Homo sapiens: one gene and its partners. The protein of the gene in region 1 purifies or fractionates together with the protein of each later gene. This does not show direct contact. Each region holds a gene or a part of one and is shown in the gene's direction. Other genes may lie near its edges.

The links.
Region 2: the proteins of PCDHGB4 (region 1) and ST7L purify together in Homo sapiens (affinity purification with mass spectrometry; 2 studies listed by BioGRID and IntAct, with this or other methods). This does not show direct contact.
Region 3: the proteins of PCDHGB4 (region 1) and CELSR3 purify together in Homo sapiens (affinity purification with mass spectrometry; 2 studies listed by BioGRID and IntAct, with this or other methods). This does not show direct contact.
Region 4: the proteins of PCDHGB4 (region 1) and LETM1 purify together in Homo sapiens (affinity purification with mass spectrometry; 2 studies listed by BioGRID and IntAct, with this or other methods). This does not show direct contact.

What each region holds. Positions count from the first base shown.
Region 1 is NC_000005.10:141,385,586-141,391,183, forward strand, and holds the start of PCDHGB4 (protocadherin gamma-B4 isoform 1 precursor), read left to right. Parts: upstream 1-2,112; 5' UTR 2,113-2,299; coding exon 2,300-4,696; coding exon of another isoform or gene 4,697-4,711; intron 4,712-5,598. UniProt on the Homo sapiens protein: Potential calcium-dependent cell-adhesion protein. May be involved in the establishment and maintenance of specific neuronal connections in the brain.
Region 2 is NC_000001.11:112,584,642-112,588,141, reverse strand, and holds part of ST7L (suppressor of tumorigenicity 7 protein-like), read left to right. Parts: intron 1-3,500.
Region 3 is NC_000003.12:48,645,887-48,649,386, reverse strand, and holds part of CELSR3 (cadherin EGF LAG seven-pass G-type receptor 3 precursor), read left to right. Parts: intron 1-171; coding exon 172-266; intron 267-458; coding exon 459-668; intron 669-925; coding exon 926-1,121; intron 1,122-1,390; coding exon 1,391-1,546; intron 1,547-2,458; coding exon 2,459-2,624; intron 2,625-3,129; coding exon 3,130-3,297; intron 3,298-3,500. UniProt on the Homo sapiens protein: Receptor that may have an important role in cell/cell signaling during nervous system formation.
Region 4 is NC_000004.12:1,814,657-1,818,156, reverse strand, and holds part of LETM1 (mitochondrial proton/calcium exchanger protein precursor), read left to right. Parts: intron 1-1,242; coding exon 1,243-1,430; intron 1,431-2,354; coding exon 2,355-2,493; intron 2,494-3,500. UniProt on the Homo sapiens protein: Plays an important role in maintenance of mitochondrial morphology and in mediating either calcium or potassium/proton antiport. Mediates proton-dependent calcium efflux from mitochondrion.

The sequences.
Region 1 (5,598 bases):
CAACCTACTTTCTTAACTCATATATTTTATACATTGGAATGAATCGAGTCTTTCATATTGCACAAGGTTAGCAGGAATAAAACACACCTCAGCTGTCTTCTCAGGATTCTCTTTAGCATTCAAATATGTAAAAGGTTCTGAAAGATTTCTTCCATGTGAAGATTTTTTTCTGTGGCTGATTCTGCCTCCATGTACCTCAGCTTGGTGGTCCTAAAAAATCTTGATTGCTTCTTGACCTATTTACAGTATAATCATTTATTAATGGGGTGGTAGTAGAAGGTTGGATTTATGCCTAAAGAATGAAATGTGTGTGTATCACACTTCACTAAGATCTATATCAAAGACAGACATCAAGTCTAATGCCACACTAAAGGCCATCGGACAAAACCAATAAAATATGTCAAATAAAATGTCATTTTAAGTGTTGTAATTGGCATTTGTGACATAGGCAATTACATGTTTTAACAGAGAATTCCAGTATGTTGTTTTAGTGGTACAGCCAGATGAAGTGTGTCTGTGGGCTATCAAAGTGGGAGATTGGGGATACTGGCTTTGTTTCAACTGTCTCACGTACTCAAACCTTAGACCATCTTATGTACACAGATCCTAGACCAGTAGTTGATTTTATTTATTAGGTCTACTGAAAAATTCAGTTGGAAATAACCCAATCTGGGATTAACTACTTCCATATTCTTTTGTATAACATTTTAGTAAAGCTCAGTATATCAAGTGATTGTCATCCAGAAGGGGTGGATGACAAGGTAATCTTGATTCCAGAGACCTTTGAGTATTAATTAAAAACACACTTTTAGCCAGGTATGGTGTTGCAAGCTGTAGCCCACCTGCATGGGAGGCTGAGGCAAGAGGACAGCTTGAACCCAAGAATTGGAGGCCCACCTAGATAATATAACAAGACTCTGTCTCTTCAAAAAAAGACTCTTTTTAGACTAGTGTTGTATTTGGTAGTATTTTGCACATGATAGACTCTGTACAATAGTGTGGGGGATACATTTTTTTTTTTTGACATGGAGTCTCGCTCTGTCACCCAGGCTGGATACATTTTACAAGTTCTGCAGTGTTCACATTTCAGATGTACAATCACTTGGGGTAGAAGACAATGTTGCTGACACCAACAATGTTACTGAGGGAAGATCCTATGGCAGAACTACGGTTATAAGGTATTTTGTAAAAGAAAATCTCCTGACCAAAATTTATTAGATGCATAAAATTGTTTTTAAGCAATGGAGAGACATAATCACTAAACTCAGTGAGCTATTGCAATCAAACTTTCCAGGGATTGTTTCCTTCAATTCAGAGGTCACCAAGGAATGTAAAATAAGTGCAGAGGTAGGAAGCAGTGCTTCAGTGCAGCAGATCTCAGTGACTTTGTGTTTTGAGGCTATGTATTATCCCCCTGATAACTTTGAAGATGAATGTTGTATTTCATAACCAGTAAAATAATTGTGTAATGAGGAGAGGAGTAGGCTACTGCCTGTGATCATCGAAATGAGAATCACATAATATTCCTGTAATGAAATCACTGAAACTATTGGGAAGGGGGTGTATTTGAAGATAAGTATAAATTGCACCTTCTAAAAGGCAATTTTGGTATTACTGATACTCTCCGGAAAAAGTTGAAATAAATCAACTTGGAGGTACTTAGAAAAGTGGAGAAAATGTTAGGAACAATGAAAGAAAGATAAAATGTATCCAGTATATTTCTAATGAGTAAGTATGGAAAATTACTGTACTCTGAGACGGTTTAGGCCAAGTCTGTGTTATGGCTATCTTTATATAGATAGTGCATGTTTGAAGATTGGGGAAAGCTTATGTCAATAAATGTTTATGTACTTAATCTACATGATTTGCCTAAAAATCCTCAAAGTTGGGATGAAGGCATTCCTAAGAGTACATTTTTAGACGTCATTAAATATACAGACGTATCCACGTAGTTTTTGTTCTTTCAGTTAGGCACACAATTATAATTATTGCACTGGTTAACTTGAAGCAGCAGAGGCTGTAGTTTCCTAGTGCTGACTCTGGGCGCCGCTGTTGGCCAAAGTGGAGAGCTTGGCGCTCCAGATCTCCTCGCGCAGCCGCAGCGCGCTTTCCAGGGCAGCCCCAGCTCAGACTCCCCAGCGCCAGCCTTTACACCGCTTCCTCCTCGGAAAAAGAAGAATTTTTTCTTGAACTGGAACTGCAACTAAAGTCCGTTCGGAGATCCAAAAATCTGCAATACAGAGGTTATTTGTAACCCGGCGTCTCCAGGCTGGTGAGCAAGCTGAGGAGAGCAAGAGGGATGGGGAGCGGCGCCGGGGAGCTGGGCCGGGCTGAGAGGCTGCCAGTGCTCTTTCTCTTCCTGCTGTCTTTGTTCTGCCCGGCGCTCTGTGAGCAGATCCGCTACAGGATTCCCGAGGAAATGCCCAAGGGCTCCGTAGTGGGGAACCTCGCCACGGACCTGGGGTTCAGCGTCCAGGAGTTACCGACTCGAAAACTGCGCGTCAGTTCGGAGAAGCCTTACTTCACCGTGAGCGCAGAGAGCGGGGAGTTGCTTGTGAGCAGCAGGCTAGACAGGGAGGAGATATGCGGGAAGAAGCCAGCTTGTGCTCTGGAATTTGAGGCTGTTGCTGAAAATCCACTGAACTTTTATCACGTGAATGTGGAGATCGAGGACATTAATGACCACACGCCAAAATTCACGCAAAATTCCTTTGAGCTGCAAATAAGTGAGTCTGCACAGCCTGGCACACGATTTATATTAGGATCTGCCCATGATGCGGATATTGGTAGCAACACACTGCAGAATTACCAACTCAGTCCCAGTGATCATTTCTCACTGATAAATAAAGAGAAATCAGATGGCAGTAAATACCCTGAGATGGTATTGAAGACACCTTTGGACAGAGAAAAGCAGAAATCCTACCACTTGACTTTGACTGCCTTGGACTTTGGAGCTCCACCCCTAAGCAGCACTGCACAGATACACGTTCTAGTGACTGATGCCAATGATAATGCTCCAGTGTTCAGTCAAGACGTATACAGGGTGAGCCTTTCAGAAAACGTGTACCCGGGGACCACGGTGCTACAGGTGACTGCCACGGACCAGGATGAGGGTGTCAATGCCGAGATTACTTTCTCTTTCAGTGAAGCTAGCCAGATCACCCAATTTGACCTGAACTCTAACACCGGGGAAATTACTGTTTTAAATACATTAGATTTTGAAGAAGTCAAAGAATATTCCATAGTTTTGGAAGCAAGGGACGGTGGAGGAATGATTGCGCAATGCACAGTGGAGGTAGAAGTCATAGATGAAAATGACAACGCCCCAGAAGTGATATTCCAGTCTCTACCCAACCTAATTATGGAGGACGCCGAGCTGGGAACACATATTGCTTTGCTCAAAGTCCGTGACAAGGATTCCAGACACAATGGAGAAGTGACTTGTAAATTGGAAGGTGATGTTCCATTTAAAATATTAACTTCTTCAAGAAACACGTATAAATTAGTGACAGATGCTGTTCTAGACCGCGAGCAGAATCCAGAGTACAATATAACCGTTACGGCAACAGATCGGGGCAAGCCTCCCCTCTCCTCCAGTTCCAGCATCACCCTGCACATTGGTGATGTAAATGACAACGCTCCGGTTTTCTCACAGTCTTCCTATATAGTCCACGTGGCCGAGAACAACCCGCCTGGAGCCTCTATTTCACAAGTCAGGGCTTCTGATCCGGACTTGGGGCCCAACGGCCAAGTCTCTTACTGCATCATGGCCAGTGACCTGGAGCAGCGGGAGCTGTCATCCTACGTGTCCATAAGCGCGGAGAGCGGGGTGGTGTTCGCGCAGCGCGCCTTCGACCACGAGCAGCTGCGCGCCTTCGAACTCACACTGCAGGCCCGCGACCAGGGCTCGCCAGCGCTCAGCGCGAACGTGAGCCTGCGCGTGTTAGTGGACGACCGCAACGACAATGCGCCACGGGTGCTGTACCCCGCGCTGGGTCCCGACGGCTCTGCGCTCTTCGATATGGTGCCGCACGCTGCAGAGCCTGGCTACTTGGTGACCAAGGTAGTGGCGGTGGACGCAGACTCAGGACACAACGCCTGGCTGTCCTACCACGTGCTGCAGGCTAGCGAGCCCGGGCTCTTCAGCCTGGGGCTGCGCACGGGCGAAGTGCGCACAGCGCGTGCCTTAGGCGACAGGGACGCCGTCCGCCAGCGCCTTCTGGTCGCCGTGCGTGACGGTGGACAGCCACCACTCTCGGCCACTGCCACGTTGCACCTGGTCTTCGCCGACAGCTTGCAGGAGGTGCTGCCGGATATCACTGACCGCCCCGACCCCTCTGACCTCCAGGCTGAGCTGCAGTTTTACCTAGTGGTGGCCTTGGCCTTGATCTCAGTGCTCTTCCTCGTGGCCATGATTCTGGCCATTGCCTTGCGCCTGCGACGCTCCTCCAGCCCCGCCTCCTGGAGCTGCTTCCAGCCTGGTCTCTGTGTTAAATCCGAATCCGTGGTTCCCCCCAACTACAGCGAGGGGACTTTGCCTTATTCCTACAATCTATGTGTTGCACATACAGGAAAGACGGAGTTTAATTTCCTAAAATGTAGTGAGCAGTTGAGTTCAGGACAAGACATACTTTGCGGTGATTCATCTGGGGCCTTATTTCCACTTTGTAATTCCAGTGAATTGACTTCCCATCAGGTGAGTTTCCTTTAAGTATAATTTAATGCTCATTGCCTACCCATTTCTCCATATTCACAAGAAAATATACATATTTGCAGGAAAATATATAATTTTTAGATGTCATGGATCATTTTAGGAAAGTTGTAGTCAGTTAAAAAGCTGTCATATCATTCTACAAAGGAGGAGTAAAGTAGGAGCAATTGTGTGGCCCAACATTTGTTTGTTTTTTAGCCAAGCTTAGATTTATAAAGCAATGAGGGTGTGGTTTTAACCACAAAGTGAAAGTGTTAGACAGTTGTTGGCTCTCTCCTAAAAAGTGAATGAGATTTTTCCTATACATTTTCCTTCTTGTTGACTAATATATGATGAATACTTTTTTCAGCTTGGATATACCATAAATATAAAAATAATAAAGCCAAAGAATTTAAGCTAAAATTCAACACTTTTCTTAACTAATTTAACTGGTATGGTCTCCATAGTAGTCCACTGTTTTGTTTCCTGTGTTAACTTCCCTTTTGTTTCAAAAGCTCTTAGAATAAGGAGTCAACTGGATTTTTATGTCCATGGACCCCTTGTGATTATATGCAGTGTACGCTGTGTGTGCGTGTGTGTGTGTGTGTGTGTGAGAGAGATCCTTTTACTTAGAAAAAGGTCTACTATGCTCATTAGAAGATCAAAAGCAGATTCTCCTTACTTGTAACATAGGAGTTTCAGGATTAATCTGTATTCAAGCTCATTCTATATCCTTCATCAAAGAAAAGACAATGTTTTGTGTCTGTTGTCCCTCTCACACACAGCCCTAATATATAATGTGTAACTGCCTTATCTGCAGCCCTAAACTAATATAGCTAGAGGTCTTCTAATCATTCTCCTACCTCTAGGAAAGAAATATAGTCTTGAAAACTGCCAATCTGGTGTGC
Region 2 (3,500 bases), on another chromosome or scaffold:
CAACATATGAAAATCAGTTGTATGTCTATATCCTAGCAATGAACAATCTGAAAAGGAAATTAAGAAAACAATTCCATTTACAAAAGCATCAGAAAGATTTAAATACTTAGGAATAAATTTAATCAAGGAGGTGCAAGACTTGGATGCTGAAAACTATAAAGCATAAGTTAAATAAATAAATCAAAAGACATCCCATGTTCATGGATTGGGAGACATTATTGTTAGAATGTCAGTACTCCCTAAATTGATCTACGGATTCAGTGCAATCCCTATAAAAATTTTAATTATCATTTCTGCAGAAATGGACAAGGCGATCCTATAATTCATACAGAACTGCAAGAGACCCTGAATACCAAAACAATCTTGAAATAGAAGCACAAAATTAGAAGACTCACACTACACAATTTAAAAACTTACCGCAAAGCTACAGTAGTTAAATTACAAGGATAGACACCTAGATCAATGGATTCAAATTGAGATTCCAGAAATAAACCCATATTATCTATGGTCAGTTGATGGTTTTGTTTTGTTTTGTTCTGAGACAGAGTTTCACTCTTTTTGCCCAGGCTGGAGTGCAATGGCACGATCTCGGCTCACTGCAACCTCCACCTCCTGGGTTCAAGTGATTCTTCTGCCTCAGCCTCCCAAGTAGCTGGGAATACAGGCACGTGCCACCATACCCGGCTAATTTTGTATTTTTAGAGTAGAGACAAGGTTTCACCATGTTGGCCAGGCTGGTCTTGAACTCCTGACATCAGGTGATCCACCCACCTCAGCCTCCCAAAGTGCTGAGATTACAGGTGTGAGCCACCACGCCTGGCCATGATTTTTGACAAGGGCGTCAAAACCATTCAGTGGAGGAAAGAATAGTCTTTTCAACAATGATGGTGGAAGAACTGAATAGCCACATACATAAAAGCATAAAGGTGGTCCCTTACCTCATACCATATATCCCAATTAATTTAAAAATCAATCAAGGACCTAAATGGAAGAGTTAAAACTACAGAACTCTTAGAAGAAAGCATAGGGACAAATCATCATCACCTTGAATTTAGCAGTGGTCTCATAAATTATAACACCAAAAGTACAAGCAGCAAAAGAAAAATCAGGTAAATGGACTTTATCAAAGTTAAAATATTTTATGCATCAGAGGACATTGTCAAGAGGCAGAAATAGATTTGGGATTGCCAGGGATTGAGGAGGCAAGGGAGATGGGGAGTGACTACTTAATAGGTATGAAGTTTCTTGTGGGGATGATGAAAATGTCCTGGAATTACATTGTGGCGATGGTTGCACAACTCTGTGAATATATTAAAAATTATTGAATTGTATACTTCAAAATGCTTTAAACTGTGAACCTTGTTATTTGAATTTTACCTCAATGTAAAAAACCAACATTCTTCAAAGTAAGATTAATTAGGTATTCACATAATGAATTTCCTGAATTAGTATCCATATAAAATACTTTTGAACAAATCCAAGAAAACTTTAAGGGGGAAAAAATCTTTTCACCATATATCCATACAGTCATTAAAAGTATATACATTCAAAATATAAGCATATAATTATGTTTATATTTTGATTTATACCCATCTAGGTCTTTTAAAAACTGTTTTTATTATGGTTATTTTAAAATATTTCAGTCGGTTTTTGGAATGGCAGTCAGGAAGCCTAGTGTTTTTGATTTTTGTTTTTGTTTAGAGACAGGGTCTTGCTCTGTTGCCCAGGCTGGAGTGCAGTGGTAGGATGATAGCTTCATTGTAACCTCAAACTCCTGGCCTTAAGCAATCCTCTTGCCTCAGCCTCCAAAGTAACTAGGACTACAGGTGCACACAACCACACCCAGCTAATTTTTAAATCTTTATTATTATTGTTTTATAGAGAGAGGGTCTCGTTGTGTTGCCCAGGCTAGTCTCGAACTACTGGCCTCAAGTGATCCTCCTGCCTTGGCCTCCCAAACTGCTGGGATTATAGCCATGAGCCACTGTGCCTGGGCAGGAAGGCCAGTGTTTAAAGCAGCAGTGTATCTAATGCTTCACAGGGATCTAGTGTAATGTAATGGAGAAATCTTTGTTGATTAGTGAAATTGTTATGTATTATAGGGTCTTCTTATTTGAAGGATGATGAAATGGTATGATTTGCATTTTCTATAACTGAAGAACGTTTTTGTCCCCACTTAACGATAGCTACCTGCCATCACTTTTGTTTAATGCTTGGTCTTGTACGTTTATCAATAATTTCTCTCCTCTTGCTGAGATAAGCACTAATTATTAGAAATATAATGCAAGCCACATATGTAACTTTAAATTTTCTAGTAGCCACATTTAAAAAGTAAAAAGAAATAGGTGAAATTAATCTGAATAATGTTTTATTTAGCTATATTCAAAATATTAATTTTTTTTTTTTTTTGAGACGGAGTCTCACTCTGTCACCCAGGCTGGAGTGCAGTGGTGCAATCTTGGCTCACTGCAAGCTCCGTCTCCCAGGTTCATGCCATTCTCCTGCCTCAGCCTCTCAAGTAGCTAGGACTACAGGCACCCGCCACTGCGCCCAGCTAATTTTTTGTATTTTTTTTAGTAGAGACAGGGTTTCACCGTGGTCTCGATCTCCTGACCTCGTGATCCGCCCGCCTCGGCCTCCCAAAGTGCTGGGATTACAGGCATGAGCCACCGCGCCCGGCCCAAAATATTAAACTATTTTAACATATAGTCAGTACTTTTCTAAAATCTGTTAATGAAGAACTTTACATTCTTCTAAGTCTTCAAAATTCGTTGTGCATTTTTACACTTGCATCACATCTCAATTCAGACGCATCACATTTCAAGTGCTCAATAACCACATGTGGCTAATGCCTAGAATACTGGACAGTGCCGTCTTAGATAATCACAACTAGGATATTGTCTGTAGAAGAGATGGATTTGTTATTTCTGGGAATGGAATAACAACATTTTGTTTCTCTTTGTGGCCCCAAAACAAGCATTAGTTTATTAGCCAGGTGTTGACTTAAAAGATACAAAGAAAAGCCTCTGTGTTTTAGTGGGGTGAAGAAAAGAAAACTTGGCATAAGCATAGTTTTGAGGAATGAGAATAGGAGTGTAGGAGGAAGGACCTGAATTCAGAACAAGGGAAGTTATACTGCATAATATTGTGGATAAGTCCATGTGTGGATGGGACAGCATGCAGAGGGGAGTACTCAGATTTGGGGAAAATGTCTAGTCCTGGACTATGTTTCTGAGTCAGATGTTAAAAGTGCCTAGTTGGCCAAGGGACTATCTTCCCAATCTTCACCCTCCCCATACCTGCCCCATGAAATGGATGTCATAAATTATATAGCGACTAAAAGCAGGTATGATCAACCGGGCATGGTGGCTCACGCCTGTAATCCCAGCACTTTGGAAAGCTGAGGCAGGTGGATCACCTGAGATCAGGAGTTCTAGACCAGCCTAGCCAACATGTTGAAACCCCATCTCTACTAAAAATACAAAAATTAGCCGGGCGTG
Region 3 (3,500 bases), on another chromosome or scaffold:
CAGCTGGGGCCTACCTGGGCTTGGGCCGCTACCTCCAGGGGTGCAGCTATAGATGCTCATGACTCTGACTTCTGCCTCAGGGATTCCCCCAGCATAGGAGAGGGTGCTGCGGTTATCTCCTCAGCAAAGGTATCCAGGCCCCAGGCCTGACCAGGGGTTGCCTGCCTCCAGGTGCTGCTGTGCGGCTGTGTGATGAGGCCCAGGGTTGGCTGGAGCCCGACCTCTTCAACTGTACCTCCCCTGCCTTTCGAGAGCTCAGTCTGCTGGTGAGACTGCCCAGACCTTTTCCTGCAACCTAAGACCTTCCTTGGCCTGTGGTGGGCCCCAGATACCACACCCTAGCCCTTGAACTCCTGAGCCTTTCCTGGTTGCCCTTTAATCTGGCAAGGCTTTCTCCCTGTGAAGCTTTAGAGGAAGGCCTAAGGGACCACAGAGCAACCATCTCCTTGTCTTGGCAGCTGGATGGCCTAGAGCTGAACAAGACGGCACTGGATACCATGGAGGCCAAGAAGCTGGCTCAGCGGCTACGGGAGGTGACTGGCCACACTGACCACTATTTTAGCCAAGATGTTCGAGTCACTGCCCGCCTGCTGGCCCACCTGCTGGCCTTCGAGAGCCATCAGCAGGGCTTCGGGCTGACAGCCACACAGGATGCCCACTTCAATGAGGTGGGGCTGTGCCCTATGTTCTCAGTGCCTTGGCCCCCCAGCTCCCAGCCTCCTGCCCCTGGATCCCCAGCTCAGGCTCCTGCTGTTCTCTTGGGAAGTGAAGGTCCTGGGCTCTCCCTCTGTCCTTGTCCTCTCCAGCCCCGCCCCCTTGCCTGTTGGAGCCCCTCTGAGCACCTGTCCAGACCTCTCATGCCTGCCCTATCCCCTCATACATCCTCACCACCTGGCTGAACCCAATTCTATCTCTGTCTTCCCAGAATCTGCTGTGGGCCGGCTCTGCACTGCTTGCCCCAGAGACAGGGGACTTGTGGGCGGCGCTGGGGCAGCGGGCCCCTGGGGGCTCCCCAGGCAGCGCGGGACTGGTGAGGCACCTGGAGGAGTATGCAGCCACACTCGCAAGGAATATGGAACTCACATACCTGAATCCCATGGGGCTGGTGACGCCTAATATCAGTGCGTTGTGGGTGGGGTAGGGCGGGGCACAGCAGGGGGGCCATGAAAGGGCAGGTACCTGAAGGTCTGAGGGGCTGTGGCTATCAATGCCAATGTTAATGGCAGGAGACTCAGCCACCGCCCTCAGCGTTTTGTAGGGACAGGCTCCGAGCTGGTAGCACAGAAAACAGATTGTGGGACTCAGGTGCGGGATGCGAGTAAGAGGGAGTAGAACCCTTGGCAGGGGGAAGAGGTCCATGATGGGCCTCCCCTTTCTTTCTCCTGGGTAGTGCTCAGCATTGACCGCATGGAGCACCCCAGTTCTCCCCGGGGGGCCCGTCGCTACCCTCGCTACCATAGCAACCTCTTTCGAGGCCAGGATGCCTGGGATCCTCACACCCATGTGCTGCTGCCTTCCCAGTCCCCACGGCCATCCCCATCTGAAGGTGAGAGCCCCTAGGGGACCCCTGGGCCAAGTCCTGTCTCTCTGTCCCCCCAACCAGATACTATGTTGCCCTCCTGCCAATTTTCCCCTTTCTAGACCTCCCCAGTGTCAGACCCTCCCACATCTCCCCTCCACCCTCCCTCCCATATTTCCCCTCCACCCTCCCTCCCACATCTCCCCTCCACCCTCCCACATCTCCCCTCCACCCTCCCTCCCACATCTCCCCTCCACCCTCCCTCCCACATCTCCCCTCCACCCTCCACCCTCCCACATCTCCCCTCCACCCTCCCTCCCACATCTCCCCTCCACCCTCCCTCCCACATCTCCCCTCCACCCTCCCTCCCACATCTCCCCTCCACCCTCCACCCTCCCACATCTCCCCTCCACCCTCCACCCTCCCACATCTCCCCTCCACCCTCCCTCCCACATCTCCCTTCCACCCTCCCTCCCACATCTCCCTTCCACCCTCCACCCTCCCACATCTCCCCTCCACCCACCACCCTGCCTCTCACATCTCCCCTCCACCCTCCACCCTCCCTCCCACATCTCCCCTCCACCCTCCACCCTCGACCCTCCCACATCTCCCCTCCACCCTCCACCCTCCCACATCTCCCCTCCACCCTCCACCCTCCCACATCTCCCCTCCACCCTCCCACATCTCCCCTCCACCCTCCCTCCCACATCTCCCCTCCACTGTCCACCTTGCCACACCTTCACTTTGTCAGAGCCTCTCCCTCATCACAAATGACCCCTCCCAGGCCTTGACTGTTACTTTCTGGGTTCATGCTCCCTGCACTCCCCAATTCTGCTCCTGCAGGGAAGAGACCCCCATGCTTGATCGGGTTCAGAGCTGGGTTGGTGGGTGCTTTGGGTCAAAGGTCACTGACAGAAGCTCCTCCTTCTCTCCTGGCAGTTCTGCCCACAAGCAGCAGCATAGAAAACTCCACCACCTCAAGTGTGGTCCCCCCACCAGCCCCGCCAGAGCCAGAGCCTGGGATCTCCATTATCATTCTCCTCGTTTACCGCACCTTAGGGGGACTGCTCCCTGCCCAGTTCCAGGCAGAACGCCGAGGTGCCAGGTACTCAGGCCCCTCACCCCTGAGCTTCCTACGAACTTCTCAGCCTGGCAGCCCCTTTTTTGGTGGGTAGATGCGTAGGTTCACAACACACAGAGAGGAGCACAGCTCCAGGGAGCCCCATCCTTGCCGGGTTCTGTGTGAATCTTATTCTCTGGAGTTGTGCAGAGTGACAGAGCCACAGGCTGACAGACACAGAGCCACACACAGGAGGGATCCATGAGCCAGGTACAGACAGACCAAAGGGCTGACAGAGACAGACAAGGACAGGCTGACTGATGGGGGTAGGAGGGAGGGCAATCAGAGGCAAACAGTTGCAGGTCCCCTGGAGCTGCTCAGCCCCTCAGCAGCCCAGCAGAAGCTGGAGGGATTCTTAGAAACAGCTTCCACTCTGGGGACATCCCAGACCCTGGGTCAGCCCTGGCGAGTGGCATGAAGACGGGGTGAGGCAAGCAGGCTGAGCATGGGGAGGTCAGCAGTGCGTAAGCCCAGATGGGTGTCTCCCCAGGCTTCCTCAGAACCCCGTCATGAACTCCCCGGTGGTCAGCGTGGCTGTGTTCCACGGACGCAACTTCCTAAGGGGAATCCTGGAGTCCCCCATCAGCCTAGAGTTTCGCCTGCTACAGACAGCGAATCGGAGCAAGGCGATCTGTGTGCAGTGGGACCCACCTGGCCTGTGAGGACCCCCATTCTGGAAACCCTTGGTCCCGTTAGCCCTTGGGAGGCCAACTAATAGTCCCAGCCTTCCCCTGGGGCCCCCACTAGTGCTGTTGTGCAACCCGGACCATGAGGAATGCTGTACCCCAACTCCAGGCACCCTCAGCCCTTCCCATGATCTCTCACAAACCCCTGCCTGACACTGGGTCACAGTTGTGTCTA
Region 4 (3,500 bases), on another chromosome or scaffold:
CCCTCGCCTTCCCCATTCTTCCTCATGGTGTTTACTCGTGGGAAAAAAACAACTTGGAATTTAAAAAGACACTTAAGGCTGGGCACTGGTGGCTCAGGCCTGTAATCCCAGCACTTTGGGAGGTCAAGGCAGGAGGATCACTTGAGCTCAGGAGTTTGAGACCGGCCTGGGCAACATGGTGAAACACCATTTCTGCAAAAAATACAAAAATTAGCCAGGCATGATGTTGTGTGCCTGTACTCCCAGCTACTCCAGAGACTGAGGCAGGAGGATTGCTTGGGAGTGGGAGGCTGGGAGTTGGAGGCTGCAGTGAGCTGAGATCATGCCACTTTACTCCAGTCTGGGTGACAGAGCAAGACCCTATCTCAAAAAACAAAGACACTTAATTTCCTTGATTAATTAGTTCACTTAATTTTTCTTTAACAAATGTGAAGGAAATTGAGATTCAGAATAGATTCTATGTCTTTTGCTTGCAAGGCAGTGTACAAAAATAAGAAATTTGTATGATAGAAATACAATTTTATAACTCTCTGGTTTGAATTAATGGGTTTAATTACCTTTACAAGTTAATTTATTACCTTTTTTTGTTGTTGTTTGAGATAGGGTCTCGCTCTGTCACTCAGGCTGAAGTGCAGTGATGTGATCTTGGCTCACTGCAGCCTCCACCTCCTGGGCTCAAGCCATCCTCCTGTCTCAGACTCCTGGGTAGCTGGCACTACAGGTGTGCACCACCACGCCTGGCTAATTTTTTGTTTGAATTTTGGTAGAGATAAAGTCTTGCTATGTTGCCTGGTCTGGTTTCGAACTCCTGTCCTCAAGTGATCCTCCTGCCTTGGCCTCCCAAAGTTCTGGGATTACAGGCATGAGTCACTGTGCCCAACCAGATTCTTTTTTTTTTTTTTTTTTTTTTTGGAGACAGAGTCTCGCTCTGTTGCCCAGGCTGGAGTGCGTTGGCATGGTCTTGGCTCACTGCAGCCTCTGCCTCCTGGGTTCAAGCGATTCTCCTGCCTCAGCCTCCCAAGTAACTGGATTACAGGTGCCTGCCATCATGCCCAGCTAATTTTTGTATTTTTAGTAGAGGCGGGGTTTCACCACATTGGCCAGGCTGGTCTCGAACTCCTAACCTCAGGTGATCCGCCCGCCTTGGCCTTGCAAAGTACTGGGATTACAGGCGTGAGCCACTACACCTGACCCCCTTTTTCTTTTAAGACAAACTTTTTACAACCAAAATAATTTTATTAGGACTTGCAGGAGATCAAGAAGGAACTTTCAAAGACTGGTGAAGAAAAGTACGTGGAAGAATCTAAAGCCAGCAAGAGATTGACAAAAAGGGTGCAGCAAATGATCGGGCAGATCGATGGCTTGATCTCGCAGCTGGAGATGGACCAGCAGGCTGGCAAGCTGGCCCCGGCCAACGGCATGCCCACGGGGTGAGTGGGGTGGTGGGCGCGGGAGAGGGATCGGAGACTCACATAGGGAGGCTGGTCCCTTTGCTGGATCCGAGCTGGGCCCTTCTGGCTCCAAAGGGCACATTGTAGCCTCTGCCTGGCTGCCTCTCCACCTTTGACCAGCAGTCCCAGCCAGGAACCCTCTGGCATGTCAGTCTCTGCCTCTCCGAGAGCAGTTCGTCCCTTCCTGGCCCCTCTTCCTCTTCCCACAGCCCCCTCTCCTCCCGCTCCAACCTCCACCTCTGTTGGCTTCTGTTTCCTCTAATTACCAGGCTCTCTCTTGCCTCTCCCTCTTCCTGACCCCACCCACGCTCAGTAATGACACCAGCTCGGGCAGTCGGCCTTCTCTGTGCCCGACATGTCCCAGATTCCTGCGCAGCAGTGGCTGAGGGAGCTGCCGTTTTGTGAGTCCCTTCTGGGCGAATGAAACAGCTGTTGGGTGACTGCTGGTGCCCTGCAGGTTCCAAATCTCCACCTCCACACCCACAGTGTTGTAGGTGGGCTGCACGTGGCACCCTGCTCATGCTCTCGTCCCTGCTCTTGGAGGCCCTCATCTGCCCAGGGCACCACAGCCCCCATGATCGTGAACGTATTGCCAAGTGGCCACAGGCCTGAGGACAACAGCCCAGCAGCCATGGCCCCAGAGGGGCAGCCACTGAGGGGCAGACATGCCCGTGGAAACCCTGGACCTGGTGGTGTTTCTGTGTTTGTGTCCACGCTGGCCCTGGGAGCTCTTGGCATTGTATGCAGGATGGGATCATACCTTGGGGGTCCGTGCTGGAGGTTGCCTGGCTCACGCGGAGCCGCCTGTGTCAGTGCTGACCACTTGCAGCCACAGGTGTGGGCAGTGAGGCCCTGTGTGGCAGGACGCCTGCCCGTGGCCACATGCAGGCTGTGCTTCCACAGGGAGAACGTCATCAGTGTCGCTGAGCTCATCAACGCCATGAAGCAAGTCAAGCACATTCCCGAAAGCAAGCTCACCAGCCTGGCCGCAGCACTGGATGAAAACAAGGATGGCAAGGTCAACATCGACGACCTCGTCAAGGTGGGCCTCGCTGGGGACCACGCAGGCCATCCGCCACCTGCTCTGGAGTGGGGTGGGGCAGGGGGACTGTTCATTGCATGTCCGGCACCCTCCTGGGCAGCTACCCCCTCCTGTCAGGGGTTTGGGTCTGTCACTGCGACTGCTCCTTTAAGCCGCTGCTCTCATTTGAAACATCAGAAGTGAGAAATTATTGAAGTTACAACTCAAGTGTTGAGAGAGAAAACGCACCTAGTGGCTACGCATGTCCCTGGACCCCGCCCCCAGCTGGTGGCACTGGGGAGCCGGGGGGGTGCAGCAAACACCTCTCAGGGGCCCCCGACGCTGAGGGGCGACTGCACAGGGAGCCTGGGGGCACTTCACACCTGCCGGGGGCCCCCAAAGCTGAGAGGCAACTACACAGGGGAGCCGCGGGGCAGCTTGGGCACCGCCCCAAGGCTGAGAGGTGACTGCTGGGCTGAGCTCCCAAGTGCAGCCACTCAGGTTCCAGGGTAGCCCCGGAGACCCTGGCCCAGGATCCAGTCTCTGGAGGGAAGGCAGGGCTCTAGCCTGAGTGCGCACACCAATTTTCCCAATCACTGACATCTCTGAGGGGAAGCTGCCTCGTGGCTCCCGGTGCATGCATCAGGTTAGTGATTTTCCAGACGTCTAACAGAAGTGTTGGCTGGTTTCTTGCAGTTCAGTTTGGAAGCAAGGATCATGTATCTACTGCACAGCTGCCCTTCCCTTCCCTGCTAGTCTGGGTGGCAGAGTGGGGACAAGGTCCCTGCATGTCACCCCACTCTGCCCTGGGAAGCCATGGCCCAGGTTCCTGGCCAGAGCAGGAACTTGACCCTGGCAGCCCCATTGTGCTGTCTGCCACCTGTCAAGGCAGCCCCCTGGCTCCTTTGTCCTCCCACTCTGAGCCCCTTCCCCAGGGTCTGTGGCACCCCTTGGGGGAATTGGTGCTCTGAGGACCCTGGGGCCCGCAGGCAGTGATTGCGTGCATGCTGCTGCCACCCCAGCTGGGG